Linked DNA regions of Homo sapiens: region 1 is linked to region 2. The links come from fine-mapping of genetic effects on plasma protein levels. A gene starts in region 2. The other region holds a variant in brackets. All regions are shown on one strand. Distances are between the middles of the regions.

Region 1 (5,300 bases), 36 kb after region 2:
ATGCATGAGAAAGTGGTTTTCCAGACCCAGAGAGAGAGATGATACAGAGCAGAGCTAAAGCCCCCCTGCCCCACACACATCACATTCACACACACAGTCGTAATCACATATGCACACAGTCCCTCACACACACTCATATGCACACACCTCACAGTCATACACACTGCAGCCATCATTCAATCCCCCTCCCCCACCCCATGTAGTAACATTGAAAACTACGCAGGAGCACTGGGACGGTTGCTGTGGGAACCGGGATTCTGAAATCCTAACTTGTGGGCATCTGAATTCTTGCGCTGAACATTCTAATACATCAGCCACAGAGTTTATGCTCTGAATTTGGAGTCATTTCTCCTCCAGGGGCTCAGGCTGGGCAGCCAGCCAGGGAGTTAGCGAGGACGGCAATTAGAGGGCTGAAGACTTTCTGCCTGATGATGAAGAGGCCCACACGGTTTCCTGGAGAGGGCTGTCTGCCAGGGTGTGCACGCGCACATGCACAAGCTCAGGCTCAGGGGGTATGTCCGTGGAATCTGCTCAGGTGAAGCTCCAGGAATGTGTAGTGGTCATGTCCGAGTCTTCAGGCTCTGTATCGGTCAGGCCGGACTAGGCAAGGCTGTAGCAACAAGGACACCCCCAAATCTTCATGGTTTAACATGATAAGGGCTTACTCCTTACTCACACAAAATCCAAGCTGGGTCAACATCCCCTTCCCTCTTGCAGTTCCTCCGCAACCCAGGGCCTCTAATATCCTTCAACAGGGAAGACGTAAATGGAAATGGCTCACTGCCTCTTCCCTGCTTTGGCTCAAAAGCAGGCAGACGTCTTCTGCCTAGGCTTCAACCAGCCCAACCTAAGTGCAAGAGAAACCAGGAAATGCAGAGGAGTTCATAGGCAACCACAACAGTCCCTGCCCCAGAGCCTCCCTTTGTGCTTTGCAAGCCCAAACATCCCAGCCCAGAGGGGAGGCAAGTCCTTGGAGACAGTTTAAATCCGGGCTCTGCAGCTTGCTCACTGGGTGGCCTCAGGCCCACGCATCAGTTGGGTTCCCACCAGGAAACCTAGAATAGGAATTTAAAGGGGACTTATTTACAGAAGAACTATTTACAAAGGGTAATGCAGTAAGTAGAATCTAAGAGCAACTTCTGGCCAAAGGAGACACAACCAGGGAGTGGTCAGTGAGTCCGAGTAGGAGACAGTCAAGGAGAGGTCACCTTGAATAAGCAATGTCCTTCACATGAGGGACACAGCCTACCCGAGGGACCTCACAGGGGGGGCCAGAGGAATAAGTGTCACATCTTCGCTCTCCTCACTTCTGCCTAGCTCTGCTAAGGCTCCCCATTGGCTGAATCTGACAGAAGCCATAAGGCCCAGGAAGACAGGGGTTAATCCAAACAGATCAGCCTCCCAGGGCAGAATGGATAGTAGCTCTGGTGGAATAAATGGACCCTATCTGGCAGGGACAACTGATTTTTGCTTTTGGAGCCTCCTTTTCCTAATCTGTAAAATAAGAATGCTAACACCTGCCTCATTGCATTGTTGAAAGTAAATGGAATAGGCTGGATGTAGTGGCTCATGCCTGTAATCCCGGCACTTTGGGAGGCTGAGGCAGGCAGATCACCTGAGGTCAGGAGTTCGAGACCAGCCTGACCAACATGGAGAAACCCCGTCTCTACTAAAAATACAAAATTAGCCAGGCGTGGTGGCGCATGCCTGTAATCCCAGCTACTCAGGAGGCTGAGACAGGAGAATCGCTTGAATCTGGGAGGTGGAGGTTGCGGTGAGCCGAGATCAAGCCATTGCACTCCAGCCTGGGCAACAAGAGCGAAACTCTGTCTCAAAAAAAAAAAAAGAAAGAAAGAAAGAAAGTAAATGGAACAATATATGCAAATATGCAAATACCTGTCCTTCATGAATGCTAGTTTCTTAGTGTCTGAAGGCACTTTGCAATCCAGTGGTTCCCAGTCCAGGATGTGTCAATTATTCTAAAGTCTGATATGAAATTCTCAAACAAATTCTATAAACAAAATTTTCTTTTTCTAAATCACTCCCACTTTCGAGCTTTTTCTATATGTCAAGTATTTCATAGGCTGTCTCATTTCAGTCTCACAATATTTTCCTAAGAATCATAGCTGAAAAATTGGGACTGGCACAGAAAGATTAAGTCACCCATTCATGGTCACGAAGCCACTTTGTGTGTCTGGCCCCAGTGCCCACTGCCTTTCCTCCCTGTTCTACTCCGATTTCTGAAGCTGTGTGTGCAATGAATAGGTAAAGCGGAGGATCCTGAAATGCCAATGTTTGAGAACTTTCCCTACCTTGAAGGGAGGCCAATGCACCCAAAGTTGAGGACCACGTCTTTTCCAAAGGCCTCATGTAGCCACCACAGGCTCCAGGAAGTGCCCCCTGCTCATCAGGGTGTCTCTGTGGTCTCCAGGCCTGAGCTCACTCACCCACCATGCTGCTGCTGGTTCATTTCAGGTCATCCATCTCCAGCCCCACCTGACCAGCTCAACACCAGCAGTGCAGAGAGTGAGCTCTGGGAGCCAGGTGAGCAAACATTCCCTCTGGGGGTCCATGATCAGCTTTCTGTAGGTGGTCCCCCAGGGTAATAAAGAAGGGAAATGGACATTTAGGATACCAGGGAGGCTCCCTGACTTCAGACAACACTTCTTCCTGACCCATCACCTGAAGTTCCACTATCAATTCACTTTGAGGTCGTAGAACTACCATTTTTGAGAGGACACTGATAAGTCACATACAGGTGGGCAGGTATGCCTGGAGCATTTTAAGGGGATTTGTTGAGAACAGGCTAGAGTTCTTGGTGGGGGAGGCAGGGTCCTTGATTTACTCAGCAGACGTTTATTAAGGACCTACTGTATGCAAAGATGCATGCTAGCACTGGGGGTACAATCCTGGGCTAAAAGGGGCAGGTGGTTCCCATAGAAGGGGTTCTGGGGAAGTGAGGACCACCATCAGCTGAAGCAGCCCATCATCAACCCCATGGCCAGCCGCTTCACAATCCTCCAAGGTTCCCTAGTCACTGTGACAGCCTCTAGGACAGTACCCTCAGAGGAGCAGAGGGGCCTTCAGGGGAAGCATGCGCCCACTGGACCAGGGCCCCTGAACTCACAACTCTGCCTTTCTTTCACAAACGGGTGCCCCTGGAGACAGGAGCAAGTGAGGAGGGTTTCTAGGGGGCTGGACCCCTAGTTGTCTGTCACCCATCTTAACCTCTAGAGTCACTCCCAAGCCCCACCTTCGGCTGACTCTAAGGAGAACCACAGGGTCAGGCCTCAAGGTGGGCTCAGGGATGAGCCAGCCCGGCTCCATTTTGCAGACTGGAAAGCTGAGACCCCTAGCCAGGCAGGGCGTTGTCAAAGTTCACGCACAGAGTCAGTGGCAGAGCCTGGGCAACCCTCTGCCCAGGCCCCACCGGTCTCAGCTCTCTGGTCTGACACTTCCAGGGGAGCGGCTTCCGGTCCGTCTGACAAACGGGAGCAGCAGCTGCAGCGGGACGGTGGAGGTGCGGCTCGAGGCGTCCTGGGAGCCCGCGTGCGGGGCGCTCTGGGACAGCCGCGCCGCCGAGGCCGTGTGCCGAGCACTGGGCTGCGGCGGGGCGGAGGCCGCCTCTCAGCTCGCCCCGCCGACCCCTGAGCTGCCGCCCCCGCCTGCAGCCGGGAACACCAGCGTAGCAGCTAATGCCACTCTGGCCGGGGCGCCCGCCCTCCTGTGCAGCGGCGCCGAGTGGCGGCTCTGCGAGGTGGTGGAGCACGCGTGCCGCAGCGACGGGAGGCGGGCCCGTGTCACCTGTGCAGGTACGAGCGCACCCCCTACACGGGCCCCCACCTGCCCCACTCCCCAGGCCTTCAGCCACTGCCCCTGGCTCCAGACCCTGGACGCAAGCCTCGCCCTCCAGACCTCCACCCCCACCGCCTACCAGTGCAAACGCACCGGGTTCCCACACCGGAGGACGACCTCGAGTCATTTCCAGATCTGAGCGTTTCCTTGGATCTGGCCTCCAGACTCCACCCCCACACTTGGTTCCTAGTCCCACCCCTGGGTTCCCAAAGCTAACCCGGTCTCTAACCCCACTTACTGGGCCCGCCGCTTCCCTGTCCCCGCCCGCTCTGGGTCTCTCCTCCCCTTTCGCCATATACATAAACATGCCAGGTTCACAGGGTCCCTAAGCGCTGTGGCTCCCAGGCTCCCAAACCTGCCCTCCAGGCCCCGCCCACCAGGTCTCTGGTCCCTCCCACCAGCCTGCGGCTCTACCTAACCCATCTGCAGTCCTGGGGGGATTCCCAGTCTTGCCTACCGGGCTACAGCCCTCTCACTGGGTCCACAACACGCTCACAACTCTCCGGCCAGTCCAACCATCACCCCAACCCTCCCTTCCTGGTCGGGTGCCCCAGCATCCACAACCCCCTCCCACCCCTAGAGAACCGCGCGCTGCGCCTGGTGGACGGTGGCGGCGCCTGCGCCGGCCGCGTGGAGATGCTGGAGCATGGCGAGTGGGGATCAGTGTGCGATGACACTTGGGACCTGGAGGACGCCCACGTGGTGTGCAGGCAACTGGGCTGCGGCTGGGCAGTCCAGGCCCTGCCCGGCTTGCACTTCACGCCCGGCCGCGGGCCTATCCAC[C/T]GGGACCAGGTGAACTGCTCGGGGGCCGAAGCTTACCTGTGGGACTGCCCGGGGCTGCCAGGACAGCACTACTGCGGCCACAAAGAGGACGCGGGCGCGGTGTGCTCAGGTCAGTGGGCGGAGTCACTGAAGCCCGGTCACTACCAACACTCACCATAGGCCTACTGGGCGCCAAGCCTGGAGTTAGTGCCGGAGAGGTGGTCCCTGCCCTTGAGATGTCACAGTTCAGGAGGGGAGATGAGACTGAGACAAACATAATTCAGGAGAGAAAGTGGTAAATGCCCCCAAGAAAGGCAGTCAGGTGGAGTCTAGAGGCAGCAGACCATGCGGAGCTGTAGGCTAAGGCTGACCACCTCCCGGAAGAGGTGACATTAAAAGTGAGACTCTTCCCGAGTGGGAGTTGGCCACCTGCATTCAAGCAGCAAGGGGAGACTGAAGGGAGGGAGGCCTCTGAGGAGGCTGTTGGTCTGTCCAGGTGGGGCCAGAAGGTTCTGGACCAGCCAGTGCCTCTCTTTGATAAGCAGGAGATGGGGGAGGTGGGGGTGTTAAAATGTAGATTCTGATTCAGTAGGTCTGAGGCAGAGCTCCAGAGTCTGCGTTTCTAACAAGATCCCAGGCAATGCCGATGCTGCTGCTCCACAGACCACACTTATCACAGCAGG
Region 2 (5,351 bases):
TTCCATTTTATTGTTCAACTAGTTTAACATGCATGTTTAATTGAACAAGGTCAAATGCTAGTCAATATTTTGCCCTCCCACCAAATAATAGACCTTTCCCACTCTGATCACTCCTCACCAATTTGTTATTGTTTTATGGTTCTTTAGTTTTATCTCATTTTTTTTTTCTTTTTTAATTTTTTTTTCTTTTTTTTTTTGAGACAGAGTCTCGCTCTGTCGCCCAGGCTGGAGTGCAGTGGTGCAGTCTTGGCTCGCTGCAACCTCCACCTCCCAGTTTCAAGTGATTCTCCTGCCTCAGCCTCCTGCATAGCTGGGACTACAGATGCGAGCCACCACGCCTGGCTAATTTTTGTATTTTTAGTAGAGATGGGGTTTAGCCGTTTTGGCCAAGCTGTTCTCAAACTCATGACCTCAAGTGATCCAACCACCTCAGCCTCCCAAAGTGCTGGGATTACAGGCATGAGCCACCATGTCCAGCCTATTTCATTTTTTTCTAACTCCACAAAGTGGACATTTTTGTAATTATTTTATGCTATCAGTGCTTATTAAATCCACTTCTGTGTTTACATATTTCTTTGCTCACCATTCTTACTTGAATCTTAGACTTTTTTTTCTGAGATTATTTTTCTTGTTTTTGAAGAACATCCTTTAGAATTCCCTTAGGTGAGAGTCTGTTAGCTATAAATGCTCTCAATTTTCATCTGAAAATGTGTCTTTTAAACCTTATACTTGAAAGATAGTCAAGGTTGACAGTTATTTTTTTATTAGTACTTTGAGATGTTGTTCCATCGCCTTCTGGCTTTAGTTATTGGTATTGACATATTAGCTGCCCATCTACTTCATCATTCATCCATCTTCTGTCTAGTGATCAGCAGTTTTGCTACCAAAAATGTTTGGTGTAGATTTCTTTTTATTTATCATGCTTGGGTTGGGGGAGCTTCCAGAATCTGAGGATTGTGTCTTTCATCAAGTCTAGAAATTTTCCATTTTCTTCTAGAACTCTAATTAGACATATTTAAATCCTTGTTCCTTGTCTATGTCTCTTAGCCTCTTTCATATTTTCCACCACTTTGTCCTCCTGTGCTCCATCCTGGGTAAATTCTTCAAATCTATTGTTCACCCCAGTAGTTGTCTCTTCAGCCATATTAATCTGCTGTTTATTTTTATGTATGTATTTATTTATTTATTTTTGAGACAGAGTCTCACTCTCACCCAGGCCGGAGTGCAGTGGCACAATCTCGACTCACTGCAATCTCTGCCTCCTGGGTTCAAGCAATTCTTGTGCTACAGCCTCCTGAGTAGCTGGGACTACAGGCATGTGCCACCTCACCTGGCTAATTTTTGTATTTTTAATAGAGACAGGGTTTCACTGTGTTAGCCAGGCTAGTCTTGAACTCCTGGCCTCAAGCCATCAGACTGCCTTAGCTTCCCAAAGTGCTGAGCCTTAATCTACTGTTTAATCTGTACACTGGGCTTCTATTTTCAAAAATTATGTTTTTACATAACTGCTTGCTTTTTTTCCCTCAATCTTCCTGGTCACTTTAAATAGTCTCTTGTTCCTTATCTATACTTTCAATTACCAACTTTTAATTCTTGAAGCATATGAAACATCCTTATTTTATATTATATATACTGCAATTCCAACATCTGAGATGTGTTCGAAGGTCTGCATTTTTAGTTTATTGCTTGGTGCTCCTCTCACCTAAAGCACCTTGTGTCCTGTGTTTTATGATTTTTCTGTTTTACAAACATGTGAACTCATGTTCCATGGGAGTTTTTCTGTGGGATTTCTTTGAGTCATGAATATAGGATGAGTTACTCCAGAGACAATTTTTATCATTTGTTTCTGCCACGTGCCTAAGGAGCTATTATTTACCTTACTTTAAATTCTTATCTTATCTTTTTGTTTGTTTGTTTTTTGTGTGGTTGTTTTTGCCACAAAGTCACCATGAGTTTCACCTCCAGGCCTATTAGTGGGTAGACTTGTGGTGAGGGGCATTCAGGGTTGACATTTATTTTTCTCCCACTCAGAGTCCATACTGAGTTGGGCAAGCTCTGTGTCAGCTCGCTTTAAGGAATTTTTCTCTCCGAGTTCTCCACTGTGGATGTTGTATTTCAGTGCTCTTTGTTTAAGGCAGAAATTTTGGATTTTGTTTTTCACTTCGATTTTGTTTCTCAGCTTTAACTTTTGTCCATGTTCATAAGACTGAAGCTCTTGGTCAACTGGATCAACAGATACTTCTCTGCTGGCTGTGATCTCTTTGGATTTTTGTTGTCTTTATATATTAACATATACAAGGTCTCACTCTGTTGCCCAGGCTGGAGTACAGCAGTGCAATCTTGGCTTATTAAAGCCTTGACCTCCTGGGCTCAAGCGATCCTCCCACCTCAGCCTCCTGAGTAGCTGAGACCGCAGGTGTGTGCCACCAAACCTGGCTAATTTTTTGCACCTTTTGCAGAGAGAGGGTTTCACCATGTTGCCCAGGCTTATTGTCGTTTTTGATCTCTGATGATTTTCTTCATTTCTCACCACCTCAGCTACACATTTTAAAAGATGGTTTACAATATTTTTGTGGTGTTTTGTATTAGGAGAATTCTTCAGCATCTGCTGTCTACCATATTGTCAGAAATGGAGTCTAGCCATCCTTCCCGGCCCATTTCAAACGGGTTCCTCTTAGGACCAGGAGACCTCACATTATGTGTGTCCTACCTTGGCCTGTGGTTTGGTCACTTGTGTGTGTGTGAACTTCATCCTCCTTGAGGGCAGGAATATGGTTTCCTCTCTTTCACTTCCACAGAGTCCTGTCCAGAGTTCTGCACACCAAGACTGTGTAAATGAATGGAATTGCATCTGGGAGCTCGAGGCACCCATGCAAACCTGTGCTGCCAGTGACTTCCACCAGAGGGCAGCGGCAGCAGGTGCCGGCGCTGGGGCAGGACTGGGAGGAGTCTCACTCTGGGGGCGCCTGGTTCCCCGTGGCTCTAATACTTGCCGCATCAAATGCATACACCCACATTTAGGACCGAACCCAATGGAGGAGGACCGCTCCTCATTCCACATGTTGGGGAAATGAAGACAAGCAAGGATGCAGGAAGTGGAGGGCCAGGAGAGGTGGACCTGGGATGGGACCAATTGAGGCAGGGCCAGGATTTGGAACCAAACCCCTTCTGGATTTGACCACTTCCAGGGCCCTGCTTGGACAACCAAATTATCTATTCCTTTTCTCATTCAATAAACATTTATTCACCTCCTACCATATGCTCCACAGGGAGTACCATGGGAATTAAACACGCTTGGCCCCTGCCTTCTTCCTATAGCGTCAGTCTGCTGCAGTGCAATGGGGCAACTCGGGGTTTCTCAGGCAGCCCTGGGCTTCCTTCCTTCAGCCCTTTGCTCCTGCTATTCCTTCTGGCCCAGAGGCCTCCCATGATTGCTGTTTGTCAAAATCCTGCTCAGCCTTGTAGACCCAGCTCCCATGCCTGACTCCCACGGAGGCATGCCCAGTCTGGTACCTGGAGATGGGATAGCTGGCCCCACTGTGCCATCTGACGGGGCGGCTCCCACAAGGCCTTGGCACCCTTCCCTGTAGAAGGACTTGTGGGATGGCCATCTCTCAGGCCCTTCCCAATTTATATTTCTCTGAGGGGAGACTTAGGCTCTTATCTCCAAAAGTGCATCAAGACCACACCCTCCTTCCCAACCACCATTGCACCTAAGGTTAAGATAAAACTCAGGATTTAATCCAAGAGAGCCAAATTACACGGACCGGGACAGGCAATGGGTCATTCACTCCCTCTTCCAATATGTACTGATTGAGCAGCTACTACATTATCAATTTTTTCTTCTGGGCCACCAGAAATGAGGCATGGCTCTTCCACTTCCCTTCTTCTTAGAAGACCCTCGGGGAAGTGTGTCTGCATGGATGCGTGTGCATGCGTGTGTCTGGCTCCGTGACTCTTGGGGTGCAGCCTGGATGGGTGGGCTCCCAGCACAGGCAGCTGGGGCTCTCCCCACCAGCCCCTGTAACAGCAGCCCAGCTTCCTGCAGACCAAAACCACAAGCAGAACAAGCAGGCGTGAGACACTCACAGGTTGGGTTTGATCGCATGCGTGTCGGAGAGGAGAGAGCAGAGAGAGACACAGGAACAAGAACAGCAAAGGGTAGAGCAGACCTGCGCCAGGGGCGCACAACGGCCGTGTCCACCTCCCGGCCCCAAGATGGTGCTTCCCACAGGCAGCCACGCGTAGCAGCCAGAGACAGCTCCAGACATGTGGCTCTTCTTCGGGATCACTGGATTGCTGACGGCAGCCCTCTCAGGTAGGCCCCCTTCCCTCATCTCCTGCCACTGGTGCTGGAGGAGCCGGGTCCGGCCCTCTCAGTCCCCTTTCTGGTTGTTTCCTTGTGGTCACTTTTCTAGGATCTTTTAGCCAAGACTACACTCAGGTACCAGGGAGGTCCAGCATCTGGGGCTAGGAGAGGACACAGGAGCCCCTCGAGGGGCTGGGGCTGTGCCTGGAAGCCTCCTGGAGTGACAGAATGTGGGAAGCATGCTTTGTGCCTTACCAATGGGTCCCTAGGGTGTGAGGAGGGAGGTGCCTCTCCCATCCTTAAGCTCAGGAACTCCCCCATTTCCTATTTCTTGCCAACTCTTAAGAAGGAACCGTTCACCTTCCAGAGAGGCAGGACCACTGATGGTGGTACTTTCAACGCCAAAGCTGAGGCTTGGGGTCCAGCAGGCGTAGGCCAATCACAGGAGAGCACCTCCCGAAACAGGACTCAGGGAAGCCAGGGAGAGTTCTGGACAACCAGGCGCTGATGGCCTCAGCACAACCAGCTGGGGTAGTCTAGGGCATAAGCGAGCATGAAGGCCACCCCCACGTCTCAAGCTGCCCCCAAGTGTCAAGGCACCTGGCCACCTGGGCCAGGGAATCAGATGGCCAGAAGGTTTGGGGCACTAGACTGTGCTCCCCAGATACTTGCTGGCCCCTGTTGAGTGCAGGGTCCAAGCTGGCCAGAGCGGGGCAGGGGCCTGGAGATGCAAGAGATCCTGACCCCATCGAGCTCTCACATTTTGGGATTTGGGAAGACTGGTATGGAAACAGAATTCGGGCCAGGGGAGTCTGGGTCCACCTTGCAGCCAGAGAGCCAAGTGCTTTCATTTTGTGATGGAGGAGACCCAGGAAGACCCAGTCAGGAGGGGGCATCGAGCTGGTTTGGAGGACTGGGTACATGTCGCGAGACTCTGGGCAGGGAGTGCTCTCCTCTCTGCCTTGATCTCCAGGCATGTGTTCCGAGCCTGTGGCCTCATACTGGTTCAGGGAAAGCCATTCGGCTCTGGGAACTGGAGTTT

Which allele goes with the higher level. Alleles are on the strand shown, and positions count from the first base shown. The strength of an association depends on the size of the effect and on how common the allele is.
With allele T in place of C in region 1, the plasma level of the protein whose gene starts at base 4,084 in region 2 is lower (strong association).

Evidence for each region. PIP is the chance, under the fine-mapping model, that this variant and not a neighbour inherited with it causes the effect. Protein levels are from antibody-based Olink assays in UK Biobank. Linkage for the fine-mapping came from a reference panel and not from the study's own genotypes, which makes the PIPs less certain.
Region 1: its variant is fine-mapped to the plasma level of the CD6 protein (UK Biobank, PIP above 0.99). The variant lies in the coding sequence of CD6. If it changes the protein, the assay may bind it differently, which can mimic a change of level.

The regions. Positions count from the first base shown.
Region 1 is chr11:61,004,099-61,009,398 of GRCh38, forward strand. CD6 (CD6 molecule) reads left to right here. Exons shown (of 13, transcript NM_006725.5): 2 at 2,476-2,544; 3 at 3,462-3,812; 4 at 4,436-4,747. LOC105369326 (a long non-coding RNA gene) reads right to left here and starts at 4,013. Exons shown (of 2, transcript XR_950155.3): 1 at 3,949-4,013; 2 at 1-847. RefSeq lists an enhancer at 3,166-3,874 and a silencer at 3,616-3,815. The variant C/T (reference allele first, on the strand shown) is at 4,639.
Region 2 is chr11:60,967,597-60,972,947 of GRCh38, forward strand. It overlaps CD6 (CD6 molecule), which reads left to right and starts at 4,084. Exons shown (of 13, transcript NM_006725.5): 1 at 4,084-4,318. The coding sequence starts at 4,270.